4 linked regions of the Homo sapiens genome follow. The protein of the gene in region 1 purifies or fractionates together with the protein of each later gene. This does not show direct contact. Each region holds a gene or a part of one and is shown on either strand. Other genes may lie near its edges.

Region 1 (3,500 bases):
ATTCTGAAAACATTCCACCCAAACCCACTGCACACTCAATAACAAAGTTATATCCCTAGGGGGTAAAAGTGGCTGAGTACCACTATTTTAGGGCATGCAGTGAGGTATGCATAACAAGCTTTTAGCTCCATGATAAATTAAATTCTCTATAAATCTCTAAAGATGTTGTACAATATAAATAAGATTTTCTTACCAACACTTTAATTATTTCCTCCTTGGTTAGAAAAAGATTACTCTTCATTAAATGTTAACAAATAAGATTTTAAACTACTGTAGATTCAAGCTTTAGTAGAATATTACAGTAAAAATGTATCTATCATGAAGTTGAAATTTCATTTGGTGGTAAGATATTACTATGTTATTTTAACATGTTTAATCTTTTAAAATGCAAACTAAATATTTGTATTCAAATTATGCCTAGGAAAAAATACCCATATCCACTTACATTTAATAAAACAAAGATGCTTTTTAAACTCTCCAATCCAACTTAATAAAAAATTTCATTGGACATTTAATACTTATATTAACTTACCTGCATAAGCAACAATCCAACTATAAAAGCACTTCCTTGACAGTAACCAACCTCACGATCTACTAAAGAGTAAGCCTAAAAAGTAAAAAAAAGTTGTTCAAAATACATGGTAAGTTATACCTTCCTTCTCCAAAAAACCTAAAATTGGCAAGACAGACAGATTAAAAAACATTTATTTTTGAGAAAAGCTCTTGCTTGCTTGTTATAGATGTTATCCTATACATATTTAAAAAGCAAATGTTTTATTACATGAAATTTTATTTTGACAATTTCCCAATCCAAACTTGCTAGCTCTAAAGACATAAAATAAAATAAAATAAAATAAAATAAAATAAAATAAAATAAAGGAATTTGTAACAGGGCTTAAAAATCAAGTAAAATTGAGCTGGGCACAGTGGCTCATGCCTATAATCCCAGCACTTTGGGAGGCAGAGGCAGGCGGATCACCTGAGGCCAGGAGTTCGAGATCAGCCTGGCCAACATAGTGAAACCCTGTCTCTACTAAAAATACAAAAATTAGCTGGGCGTAGTGGCGGGCGCATGTAATCCCAGCTACTAGGGAGGCTGAGGCAGGAGAATTGCTTGAACCTGGGAGGTGGAGGTTGCAGTGAGCTGAGATCACACCGCTGCACTCCAGCCTGGGCAAAAAGAGTGCAACTCCATCTCAAAAAAAAAAAAAAAAATTCAAGTAAAATTTATATTGATGTATATAAAACTAGACTAGGTTTAAGGCAAAGGATTGGCGAAATTGAAATGATTTAACAAGAAGTCAGTATTTCAAAGAAGTAGCTAAAAGAAAAAGTAACTGTGGGAAGGGAAATGGCAATATTGAAGAAAAAATGACAATGGTACACCTTTCAAGGGCTAAGTGCTCTTAACAGTGCTGGCCATAGAAAGCAGAAAAATTTGCTCACTGTAGGAACACAGATATGATAGGAGAAACCCACATCCCAGGTTTTGAACTTCACAGATGGTGAATTATTCCTTTTCATGAGGATCCCTCTATGATATGTGACTTTTAAGCTATTCCATTTCCATCAACTAATGCTAAATAACGTAGTAAATGTTCTAACAAGTTCTCTATACTAGATAGTAATGTAGCATAAGAATTAAGGCAAAAATGATGCTAAAACCAATTTCACTGCCAAAGCAACTGATTATTGTGGTGGGAGGTCATGCTTCATCATGAAAAATGTATAATTTCAACCTTCCAGGAATTCATTTCATTTCAAAAAATGAATAAATAAAACTTACCTTCATTACATTAAATAAAACCTCCTGTCCAAGGCTATCTTTTTCCTTAAAAAAGTTGTGTTCAGGGTAAGTTCTAGCAATGTCCCTTCGGATCAATTTTTCACAAGGCGAGGTCATTTTCAGGAGTTCTGAATACTGATCCTTAATTGGCATACTTTGTGCACTGCATAAAAGTTGCCAAACTATTGCTCTAAAGTGATGGGGTATCCCTTTATGAACAAGTTCCTAAAAATAAAATAAAATTACAAAAATGAATTATTTAAGTGTCCTATCTTGCAAGCCAAGGAAGACTTATTAGGGGGTTGGAATGAAGTAGAAGACATCATTAAATTTGTAACTCACAAAGCTAGCTTTATAATAAGACTAGGGAACCCTGTAAGTCAAGGGTAAGATTGGGCCCTGGGTGTATCCTCTTCTGGTCAGGGGATTAATAATGATCATTTCACCTCAGTGTGTGACCTCTTAAGGTAATGGACTTGAAACCTGCAGAGCTGTGAATGATGGTACAGTACCCAACATTCAAAGGGCTGTTGAAGGCAAAAAAAAAAAAAAAAAGGAAAATACTGTTATTCAAGAATGCAGGATATCACAACTTCATTTCTGAATCAATAAAATGAGAGAATTTAATTTCTAAAACAATTTTCGGGCCGGGTGTAGTAGCTCACAACACTTGGAGAGGCGGAGGTAGGAAGACTGCTTGAGGCCAGGAGTTTGAGACCAGCCTGGGCAACAAAGCAAGACCCTATCTCTACAAAAAGGAAAATAAAAAATTAGCGAGGTGTGGTGACACACACCTGTAATCATAGCTACTCAGGAGCCTGAGGCAGGAGAACAGCTTAAGCCCAGAAATTCGAGGTTATAGTGAGCTATGACTGCATCACTGCACTCCAGCCTGAGCAACAAAGTGAGTCTTTATAAAATAATAATAAGTAAATAAAATAATTTTCAGTTATATATTTCTATATGATCAGGACCTCTGTAACAACTGATGTCTACAAATTAAAACTTTTAGGGGTACAAGTAAGTGAAAACAAATAAAGCAGACCTCTTTAATATATAGCTTGGAAGTTGTATTTGGGGTTTTTTTCCCAATCCTCTATTAAGTTATGTCTGACGCACTATGGAATAAGAATAAGAACTTCAACAAAGAACATGAATACCTTAACTTGCTTTTCCTTCTTTTTGCGTACATCTTCCCATTCATTAACAATTCTTCCCCAAAGAATCCAAGAATCTTCTTCAAGGTGACTGAGGTTGCTAGAGGCTGATGAACTCGACACAAGAGAAGAGCCACTGTTTCTTCTTGACCCATTTACAGATCTTAAAGACTTACTATCCGTTTCTAACAATCTAAAATATAATTAAAAACTGTTCAAGATCTAATCGGACAGTGATATTAGAAGAGGCATTGATGATACTTAGAGCTTTATTACTGCAATTTAACCATTGTTTTAAAATATAGTTTTAATAATATACATAATTTAAATAAATTTTGGTCACATCAATAAAATTACTGCTATATTTTTTTCACCTATTATAGCAGTTTGAAAATTTGAAAAAGCAAATTACGTTAAAAATTTTTGAGCTACTAGCCCCATTATAATTTCCCTTCGTCTCCATTAAAAATTCAAATTAGGGGAAATCTGATGAGAAAAGTATTTGGGTAGGCTTCAGGAAAAAAGAACTTATACTTGGAAGAGGTACAACAAATCTA
Region 2 (3,500 bases), on another chromosome or scaffold:
ATTCTCTGCAGCTACTACTTTTTTCCCTTTCCTGGTGGAGCATTTGAACATCACCTTGAGAATTAGTTGTATTTTGTTTGAACACAGGGTTAAGTGAAAAGCTAATTTGGGGAGGTGATTTGGAATGTCAGGTAGTCCAGGTTGCAGTGTAGAAAGAACACACTGAAAGGATGGTCAGTGTAATGTTAGAGGACTGTGAAAGTTGGGGAAAGAAGTTTAGTTTGTAGGTACTTGTTTTTTTGAGCAGGGAATTGTCTTGGCTGGAGGTGAACGTCAGAAAGGTTAATGTAGGCAAGTGTAGAATGGAAATGAAGGTGTGATCATTTAGGAGGTTATTTGTTTAGGTGAGAGAGTTAATGAATTAGGTTTTGTATTAACGAATGAAAATGGGAGCAGATAAATTTTTAACAAATTAAGAATCATATTTTAAAATCAGCACCAGGTACCTAGAACTCTTTGGCAAATAGAAACTTTCAAAAGATATAATCAGGTCCGGGCGTGGTGGGTCACACCTATAATCCCAGCACTTTGGGAGGCTGAGGTGGTGGATCACTTGAGGTCAGGAGTTCAAGACTAGCCTGGCAAACATGGTGAAACCCCATCTCTACTATTATACCAAAAATTAGCCGGGCGTGCTGGCTGACGCCTGTAATCCCAGCTACTCGGGAGGCTGAGGTGGGAGAATTGCTTGAGCCCAGGAGGTGGAGGTTGCGGTGAGCCAAGATTGTGCCATTGCACTCCAGCCTGGACGACAGATCGAGACACCATCTCAAAAAAGAAAAAAAGAAAAAATCAGTTATTTAAATTTAAAAGAGTAAGTTTCCCCAGCACTGTTTCTGGCATGATATAATTAAATGATTAAAATTATTTGATTTTTTTTTTCTTCCAATAGAAAGAAATGCAGGAGTTGAAACTAAATAGCAGTAAGTCAGCATCCCGTCATCGTTGGCCCACAGAGAATTATGGACCAGACTCGGTGCCTGATGGATATCAGGGGTCACAGACATTTCATGGGGCTCCACTAACAGGTGAGCTGGCAAGTGGATAATCGCATATTTTAGTAAAACTACTTTACTTCCCTCTTTTAAGTAGATAACGTGTGAAATCACCTTGTTTATATATGTTTGTTAATATACATGTCAACGTCTGTTTATATGTGACTTCAAAAGCTGTATTAGGTGTTACGGAGATTTTTATAATCCCAAGCAGAAAAAACGAGCCGTATGTGATCACGTGTATATAAAGGCTTAAAGAACACTTAATCCACACCTCAGATGAGCTGAGATGAGATTATTCCTTAAATTGCAAAATGTTATTGAATAGAGTTATGCACTAAGAAATGCTTAATTAAGAACCTACACCTCTGGGGAATTATTTTGATGATAATGATGAGAGGCAGGACGTTATATAGGAAATCTTACTTAATTTGAAATATTATGGTTATATAAAGAAAGAAAAGGAGTTTGGACCTGAATCATACTGGGTTTTTAAGTTCTGCTCTATCACTTACTATAATAGCTGTGTAAGTTAACCTGTCTGAAATGTGGAGATAATACTTGCCTTACATAATTACTATGAGCATTTGTGTATGTGCAGGTGGGCGTGGGTGTGTATCAGACATTTATTAGAGTATACAGTAAACAGTTAATGAACTAAGGTTACTAATAGTGTTTACTGTGGGTTGGCTGTGTGCAAAAGTGCTGTGTGAATGTAATTTGATTTAATTACAGTAACTTAGAATGGCCGGCACCATTATTAATCCCTTTTTTATAAATAAGGAAATGGATAAAGAAAGGTTAGGTAACTTACTCATTATTATACAGCTAGTTATTGATAGAGCCGAGATTCACACTCCAGTGGTGTAACTCCAAAGCACTTGCCAGTATAATACATTGCTCCCAGGCAGCCAGAAATAACAAAATTGTTCCTTTTACGTACGACAGACTTCTGAAATGGTAGTAGTAGTGCCCTTTTTTTTTTTCTCTTTTTAGCCCAGGAAAGATTTAGAAAAAAATCTAGTTTAGATGAGCACATTTGTGTGATGGTTCCTATAGTTAAGGCAACCCCACTAGCCTTTTGTGATAGTATCTTCTCAACACAAGCAAAATAACAGAAAATCTTTGTGAAGTCAAGCTTATTAAATGTCGTAAGTCATAGATAAGTATATGAAATGTCTAACGTTCAAACCTTGTTTTCTTAAAACCTTACACATCATATAGGTCCTTGTAAGAGGATAAACAAACCGGCTAGCCTTTCCTGGGGCTTTTTTAGTGATGTGTGCAGTCAGTTATTTGGTGCCTTGTGGGTCATGATTTCCATTTCTTCTGTGTACAGGCATAAAAGGTCTTCTGTTCTTATACAAGCATGTAAATCCAACATTCTCATTGTCTCATTTTATTCTTGCAATGACCCTGTGAAATGTGTAGAAGCAGCACATCGTCATTTTACAATTGAGAAACATGGAGACTCCAAATGGATTATTTACAGGTTCACAAAACAGCTTTGTGGCACTGAAAGGGCGAGAGCCAAGATCTCCTGATTTCTGTTCCTGTGTTCATAGATTCTTTTTCCTTAATAAAAGTAAACATATATCAAGATGGTCCTTGTTTTTTTAAAATAAGATGATTAAAATTAAAGATTAATGAGCTCATAGGAGATACTCAGAAGTACTGAACAGGGTGAAGAAAACTAAAAGCTAACCACCTTATTAACATTTCTTATATTTGAGAGCATTTCCTTCTGGTTCTTTCTCTATACATATAGTATTTTTTATGAGATTGTTACCATGTTACTATGTTGTGTGTAGATGAGCTAGCCTGTTTTTAAAATGTTACTTTAGTTCTGAGCATTTTTAAACTTAAATGTTTTTTGAATATTAATGAGTTCATGGTATCCCATCACATGGAAGTACTGTAAATTCTGTTCCTTTATTTATGTTGTTTCTGGTTTATGCCATTACAAATTCTAGGACACTGTCCTAGTTTTGTAGGGTATTCAAAATATTCAGTTTATGCTCTTACCGCTAGTATCTGATAGTGCCATTTTCGCACTTTTGCTAATGCTGACTTACTAGTTTATAAAATCCTTTGCCAATTTGTAGGAACAAAAGTGATATCAATTTTTAAGTTTTTTTAATACTAGTCATGCTCAACAATTCATGCAAATGGCAGTTGGTAGTTTTGCCATCTTCAACGTACCTTCCAGTTGTTTGGTTTCTTGGTAAAACTCACACAAAACAGATGGAGAAGAGTTTTTGTATATCAACATGAATGTTAATGTGATTTTTTTAAAGCCAACGAACACATTTGTGTTCCTTGTGAGATCCTGTGCGTGAATTTGTCAGGTAATTTTTTTGACCTGAACATTCTCATAATAGCTTCAATTTGCACAATGCAACCTCGTCATTTTGCAGATTTTCAAGGCTCACTTCAAAAACATGTTCCTTGAGGCCTATTAACATTTCTTTCCTAAATTGTCTATTCATATGGTGCTTTAAAAAA
Region 3 (3,500 bases), on another chromosome or scaffold:
TCCCGGCTACTTTTTGTATTTTTAGTAGAGACGGGGTTTTACCATGTTGGCCAGGATGGTCTCAATCTCTTGACCTCATGATCTACCCACCTCAGCCTTGTTGATAGTTTTTATGTGATGCTTTATCTAAGTAGGCTGAGATTCTGGAGAACAGAGGCCATACCAGATGTTTTTAGGAGCCTTCAGTGTGTTTGGTGATAAAAGCTAAATACACAAAGTACACTAACAATACAGGATTATCTGTGTGTCATTAGAGGAGTGCACATACTCCTCTACAAGTTACAGGCATTTTGTAGAAGTGTTGGTCTGGTGGGCTACAGTATTGCGGGAAAGGCTTCCTTTAAGGTGTAGTGGGACATGACTGGGGCCTAAAGAATGAATAGGATTTGAAATGCATGAGGAGGCTGTAAAGAAGGATGTTCTCTCAGGAGGAGACAGGGGAGAGTGAGTTTAAGCATAGGGACAGGTATGAGCTAGATGTATATGGGGATAATTATAGCACTATTTTTAACTATTTTGAAATATACACTTACAGAAACATTGCAAAAATAGTGCAGTTTCTATATTTTTCCAGATTGCTCCAGTGTTAACATGTCATATAACCATAGTGCAATTATTGAAACCAGGAGGTTAACATTTCTGTAATACTACTAACTGGTCTATAAAGCTCACCGGAATTTTACCACCTTTTTCACTAATGTTCTTTTTCTGGGCCAGGATCCTGTTTAGGGTTCCACATTGCCTTTAGGGTTGTAGCTCCCTGCCCCCCTCTAGTGACAGTTGCTCAGTTTTTTGTCTTTCATGACCTTGACACTTGAAGAACATTGGTCAAGCCAGGCACAGTCACTCACACCTGTAATCCTAGCACTTTGGGAGGCCAAGATGGGAGGATCCCTTAAACCCAGGAGTTCGAGACTAGCCTGGACAACATAGCGAGACCTCATCTCTACAAAAAATAGAAAAAATTAGCTGGGTGTGATGGCATGCACCTGTGGTCCTAGCTACTCTGGAGGCCGAGGTGGGAGGATTGCTTGAGCCTGGGAGTTGAGGTAGCAGTGAGCTGTGATTGTGCCACTGCACTCCAGGCTGGGTGACAGAGTGAGACCCTGTCTGCCCACCGCCCACCCCCCCAAAAAAAGCATTTCTCAATAATTTTGTAGAATGATTTTGGGTTTGTCAGACTGTCTTATGCTTACATGGAGGTTGTGACTTTTGGGCAAGAACACATCATAAATGCTGTGCCTTTCTCACTGCATCACCTCAGGAGACAGTGATATCAATGTGTCCTGTTACTGACGGATCACTTTGATCCCTTGGTTAAGCTGATGCCTGTCAGTTTCCTTTTATTGAAGAATGGAATTTAGAAATGAAGATCTGGTTGCTAGGTGTACTCATTACTACTTTTTGTAGTTATGTAGAAATTACAGAGACTAGAACTCAATAAATGTTTTATTAAGGGCAAGGGAAGTAGAAGAGTCAACTATGAACTTGAAATATCCACCTTGAGTGTGGACAGAAGTCAGGTTGGAGCAGGGATAATTCTTGATTTTTGACATGTTGGGTTTGGGATGAAAATGGTTTGTCTAAGTGAAAGCATTTATTTACATTTGGAGATTTACGAAAGAGCTTAGAGGAGAAATGTCAGGATCTGGGGTTCTTGCAAATGATGCCTGGGATTTGCTTTTCTTTAATGAAGAAATGCAGTTGTCTGATAGCATGGTGTTAATAAGGGTAAGATCAGGAGCTTGGTATGGGCATTTCCAAGGCCTTTGTGACTATGATCTTGAGGTGGACACCCTGGATATTGTGGCGCTCTCAGCTCCGACACATTGGAACAGATACTTTCTAAGCCTTGATTTCTTTATCTGAAGAATTGGGGTGGTACCTGCACCATGGGAAGGTTACTGGAGGCTTATAATCCTAATCCATGTGAAGTGCTTGTCTAACATAGTGTTGGCAACTGTTCATTAGTTTGCTTCTCCCTCCAGTCACCATGCTGGGTGGCAGTCAGCATTATGTGGCTAGCATGTTTTTTCCCCTAACCCTTCCCTGCTGTCCTGAAGGGGTCTTGATCACAAGGAGACTTGGTGAAAGAGGAAGTAGGATTGCTACAAACATGAACTATGAGAGCGGTAGACAAGATATGGTACTCCCCACCACCCCTGGGGAAGGAGCAAGAGCAGTCTGAAAGAAGTTTTAAGTTTAACCTGTGCTTTCTGGTCTCTTATTATAGCTTTAAAGGAAAATTAAAAAGCATTTTTCACAATGCTTCTGTTTTCCCTCTGTGAATACAAATGATTATTGAAACAATCCATACAATGCAGGAAAGACAAAAGCTCTGTAGTCTCATTCCCAGAAACAGCTGCTCTTGACCACTTAGGCATGTTCTCTGGACCTCCGTTGTCCAACAGGGTAACTGCATGTGGCTGCTGAGCACTTGCGATGAGGCTGGCCCAGCTTGGGATGAGCTGGAAGCGTGCAGTACTGTACACACTGGGTTTCCAAGACTTAGAAAAATGTATGCGAAATATCCTTCATACTTCTTATATTGGTTATGTGTTGAAGTGATTGTTATTTATATATTGGCTAAAATATTCTGTTCAATTCACCTTTTAAATGTGGTTATTAGAAAATTTAAAGTACCACAGGTGGCTCACAGTTGTAGTTTGCATTCTGTTTCTCTTGGGCAGTGCTGCTTTAGACTTATGCACAATATGTACTCAAAACAAATGGGATCATGCCATGTCTATTACTCTAAATCTTAATCTATGGCTATCTTTTCCTGTAGCCTACAAAGGCAATTTTGCCATTTTTAATGGCTGCACAAGGCAGCATATGGATGTACTGTAATTTTTTCTTAAAAATATACATTTTTTAAATTGCCAAGATCTGATGCCATATACTGTAATGTGTTTAACCATTCCCATGCTGATGAGCATTTAGGTTGGTTCCAATTATTTTCCTTTTGTTTTTTGTTGACAGTAATAATTGCACAAATTTATGGGGTTCAAGTGATTTTTTTAATACACGTATACAATGTATAATGATTAAATCGGGCAATTAGGTTATCCACCACCTCAAACATTTATCATTTCTTTGCATTAGAAACATTCAAGATCCTATCTTCTAGCTTTTTTGAACATACTAATAAATTGTTAATCTTTTGATACTGTGAAAGATTGTTCTTGTAACCTCATTTATTTTCTCAGAATAAATTCCTAAAGCTGGAATTGCTGGCATGCACATTTATAGTCTTCATTGATATGGCCAATAGCCACCACAAGAGAACCAGTCTGTTTCTTCGCCACTCTAAGTTCGGGTCATTGTTCTTTCTCTCTCTCTCTCTTTTTTTTTTTTTAAATTCTTATTCATACTAAATGTTTTACACATGTTTTAAAGTTGACTTTCATTGGAGGGTTGAGCCTCTGTTCACATGCTTGGTAGGCTCTACATTATTGATCACTGGGAACAATGTGTTGTTTTCCTTATATTTCTTGTTT
Region 4 (3,500 bases), on another chromosome or scaffold:
AAAAAGATGCATTGGCTCAGTAATTCTACTTCTCGGAATTTGCCAAGGAAACAACATAGGTACAAAGATAAACAAGAATGCTCATTACATCATAAGGACCAAAAAAACTGAAAACCTAAATGTTCGATAACTAGAGTTTGGTTAAGTAAATTAGGGCACAAGTATTTATTGGAATACCATCATTCCAATATACACTATTAAATGTAAATATATTTTGCTAGATAAAAAAACAAACTACAACAATTTACTATGTATCATAACCAAGAAATAACATACCTGAGCATAGAAAATTTACTGAAAGTACATATGGTTTTCCAAATGTAAACATTTTTAGTAGCTACTTGGTAGTCATGACTTCAATCAAATACCATCTATGTGCTAATAATTCCTTATTTTCATCTTTCATCTATAATTCTCCCCAGAATTCTAGACTCATATATCTAACTGCCTATTCAATATTTCCAGCCAGATGCCTTAATAGGTATATCAGACTTAATATATCCAAAATGAGTTCTTAACCATCCCCATTCTCTGCAGGAAAAAGCTTGTTCTCCCAAAGACCCCTGTTTCAGTTCATGGACTCCGTTCTTTCCACTGGGGTTTGAGTCATCTTTGATTCTTGGAGTCATCTTTGATTCTTCTCTTTCTCGTATAATGCATACCAAACCCATAAGCAAATCATGATGATTCTACCCCTCTATCATCACTTTCTTTCCCCTTCCATGCTCTGTCCTTCTTCTGAGCACTTAACTACCCACTGAAATATAATAAATTTGTTTAATGTCTGCCTCCTCCCAGAACATAAACTCGTGAGAGCAATGACTTTGTGCCTGTGCTTTATCCTCTTAATGAAGAGCAATATACATAACAAGCACTCAATAAATATTTATTGAATCAATGAATATACTTTTCCACTATCCATTTCCTCTCAAAGCTTACAAAACAAATCCATACTGCCCAAAAAGGAAAGCTACTAGTAAGAAGAGGATTAATTCTGAGGTGGTTCATTTACTAGTTACTAAGGTACCTTTTCTAATCACTACAGGTAAAAACAAAAATAATTATGCAAGCTATAATCCCATTTTTACTAATAAAAAATTATACTAATAAAACAATACATGTTTATGAACAGGACAGCAAAGCAAAATACCAAACAACGACGACAACAACAGTGGTAAATTTAACTACATAAAAATTCAAATCTTCAGCCAGCCGCGGTGGCTCATGCCTGTACTCCTAACACTTTGGGAGGCTGAAGCGAGTGGATCACTTGAGCTCACGTCAAGCTCAGGAGTTTGAGACCAGCCTGAGCAACATAGTGAAACCCCATCTCCACCAAAAATACAAAAATATTAGCCAGGCATGGTGGCATGTGCCTATAGTCCCAGCTACATGGGGGGCTGAAGTGGGAGGATCACTTGAGCCCAGGAGGTGAGGGTGTAATGAGCTGAGATTGTGCCACTGCACTCCAGCCTGAGAAACAAAGTGAGACCCTGTCTCAAAAAAAAAAAAAAAAAAAAAAAATCAAATGGAAAGCAATATGAACAAAATTCAAGACAAAAAATAACAGAAAAAAAGCACTTATTTGTAATACATATGGAAAAAGGGAAGTCAGATAAAAGAATTTTTAAATGGGTCATCTTACCTTGTGCATCTTGGCACTGGCCATGTGATAGGCCAGAAAGTTGTACCAATACATACAGTCTTCCTGATCTGGTGAAAGAGTATGCGGCTGGTGATATCTCTGAAACTGAGTGATTATCTTCTTATGTAGATCCTGCAACCCAATGAAACGTTTCAGAAGCCAGAAACAATTTTATAACCTAAGCATCACAGTAACTTCAGCTTCCAAAGCTATTAAGAATGTACAGAGAGGCCGGGCTCGGTGGCTCACGCCTGTAATCCCAGCACTTTGGGAGGCCAAGGTAGGAGGATCACTTGAGGCCAGGACTTCGAGACTAGCCTGGGCAACATAGAGAGATATCCGTATATTTAATTTTTTTACAAAAAATAAAAAATAAAAAAAATCAGTCAGGTGTGGTGGCATATGCCTGCAGACCCAACTACTCGGGAATTAGCTACTCAGGACCAACCGAGCCCAGGAGTTTAAGATTGCAGTGAGCCACTGCATGCCAGCCTGGGCAACACAGTAAGACCCTGTCTCAAAAAAAAAAAAATACATATATATATACAGAGAATCTCCCCACAAAATAATGACTTTACAGTGCAGAAACCTGGCAGATACCACTTTAAACAAATTATCAACATTAACATCACCCATAATAAAACATATCAACACCAGGAGTCTGGGAATAGTGGCTCATACCTACAATCTCAGCACTTTGGGAGGCCAAGACAGGTGGATCACTTGAGCCCAGGAGTTCAAGAACAGCCTGGGCAACATGGCAAAACACTATCTCTACAAAAAATTTTTTAAAAACCACCAAGTACTCTCAGCCTATGACGCCACTGAGAAAGATACAACATCATTGGTATTCTTGCCAAATATCTATAACTTCAATCTAGTCAGGAAAAACATCACACAAAACCAAATTTGGGTATACTGTACAAAATTACTAGCCAGTACTCTTCAAAGGTGACAAGGCCATGAAAGATAAAGACTGATAAATTTTCACAGATTTGAGGAGACGGAAAAAAATGACAAGTAGGGAAACAAGACAATCATATGCAATACGGGATCCTAAATTGGCCTGGACTACAAAAAGAACACGTAGGTTAGTGAACAGTATTGTATCAATGTTAATTTTCTGGCTTTAACAACTGTACTATGGTTATATAAAATGTTAATATTAGGGGAAGCTAGGTGAAGGACTTATGCACAGAAACTATCTACTATTTTGTAAATTTTCAATAAATCTAAAATTATTTCAAAGGAAAAAGGAAAAAAAAAAGTAAACCAAGATGCAAGTACCTGAAGCTGGCTGCAATTCTTCTCTGTAAGAAAATCTACTTGAAGATCATGTAAATAATAACGAAACGACTTTCCATTCCGATCACAGAATAAAAGAGACTTATTTACAAACTCCTGCAGTATGTCTTCAACTTCTTCAGTTTCCATGTCCCAGAGAATACATAACACCTAGGAATTGTTGTAAGTATTTAATATGCCACAAAAGTACAATGACCAGGACTGTAGACAGGTATTATCACACACACAAAAAAACGGTATCTTAAAGCCCTGAGTAAGAATGTCTCCATTTCTTAAGAAGAAACTCAGCTACTCCTCAAGATAGAAAAGAGAAAGAGAAGTCAGATGCTTCTTCAGCTGCACTAGAACCACAGAAATAGGTTAACTCCTGAGTTCAACACAAAGCCCTTAATGGAAGCTAACAGCAGAGGGATTTCTACACCCAACACCCCACCACCTCAGTCCCCTGGGTCTTATCCTTCCAAGGTTCTCTGTAACAACATGCTCAGTACTATATCAAAGCTTACATGCAATAAATACCCAATGATGAGGATCATTGATCCCATTACCT

Evidence for each region. Proteins that work in one complex are often made in the same cells at the same time.
Region 2: the proteins of EVI5 (region 1) and RGPD8 purify together in Homo sapiens (affinity purification with mass spectrometry; one large-scale study listed by BioGRID and IntAct). This does not show direct contact.
Region 3: the proteins of EVI5 (region 1) and MYO5B purify together in Homo sapiens (affinity purification with western blotting, with the first as the bait; one study listed by BioGRID). This does not show direct contact.
Region 4: the proteins of EVI5 (region 1) and APAF1 purify together in Homo sapiens (affinity purification with mass spectrometry; one large-scale study listed by BioGRID and IntAct). This does not show direct contact.

What each region holds. Positions count from the first base shown.
Region 1 is NC_000001.11:92,701,609-92,705,108, forward strand, and holds part of EVI5 (ecotropic viral integration site 5 protein homolog), read right to left. Parts: intron 3,137-3,500; coding exon 2,947-3,136; intron 2,314-2,946; coding exon of another isoform or gene 2,233-2,313; intron 2,225-2,232; exon of another isoform or gene 2,129-2,224; intron 2,012-2,128; coding exon 1,787-2,011; intron 608-1,786; coding exon 533-607; intron 1-532. UniProt on the Homo sapiens protein: Functions as a regulator of cell cycle progression by stabilizing the FBXO5 protein and promoting cyclin-A accumulation during interphase. May play a role in cytokinesis.
Region 2 is NC_000002.12:112,392,146-112,395,645, reverse strand, and holds part of RGPD8 (RANBP2-like and GRIP domain-containing protein 8), read left to right. Parts: intron 1-892; coding exon 893-1,028; intron 1,029-2,426; coding exon of another isoform or gene 2,427-2,539; intron 2,540-3,500.
Region 3 is NC_000018.10:50,185,148-50,188,647, reverse strand, and holds part of MYO5B (unconventional myosin-Vb), read left to right. Parts: intron 1-3,500. UniProt on the Homo sapiens protein: May be involved in vesicular trafficking via its association with the CART complex. The CART complex is necessary for efficient transferrin receptor recycling but not for EGFR degradation.
Region 4 is NC_000012.12:98,665,790-98,669,289, reverse strand, and holds part of APAF1 (apoptotic protease-activating factor 1), read right to left. Parts: coding exon 3,499-3,500; intron 3,101-3,498; coding exon 2,933-3,100; intron 1,778-2,932; coding exon 1,646-1,777; intron 1-1,645. UniProt on the Homo sapiens protein: Oligomeric Apaf-1 mediates the cytochrome c-dependent autocatalytic activation of pro-caspase-9 (Apaf-3), leading to the activation of caspase-3 and apoptosis. This activation requires ATP. Isoform 6 is less effective in inducing apoptosis.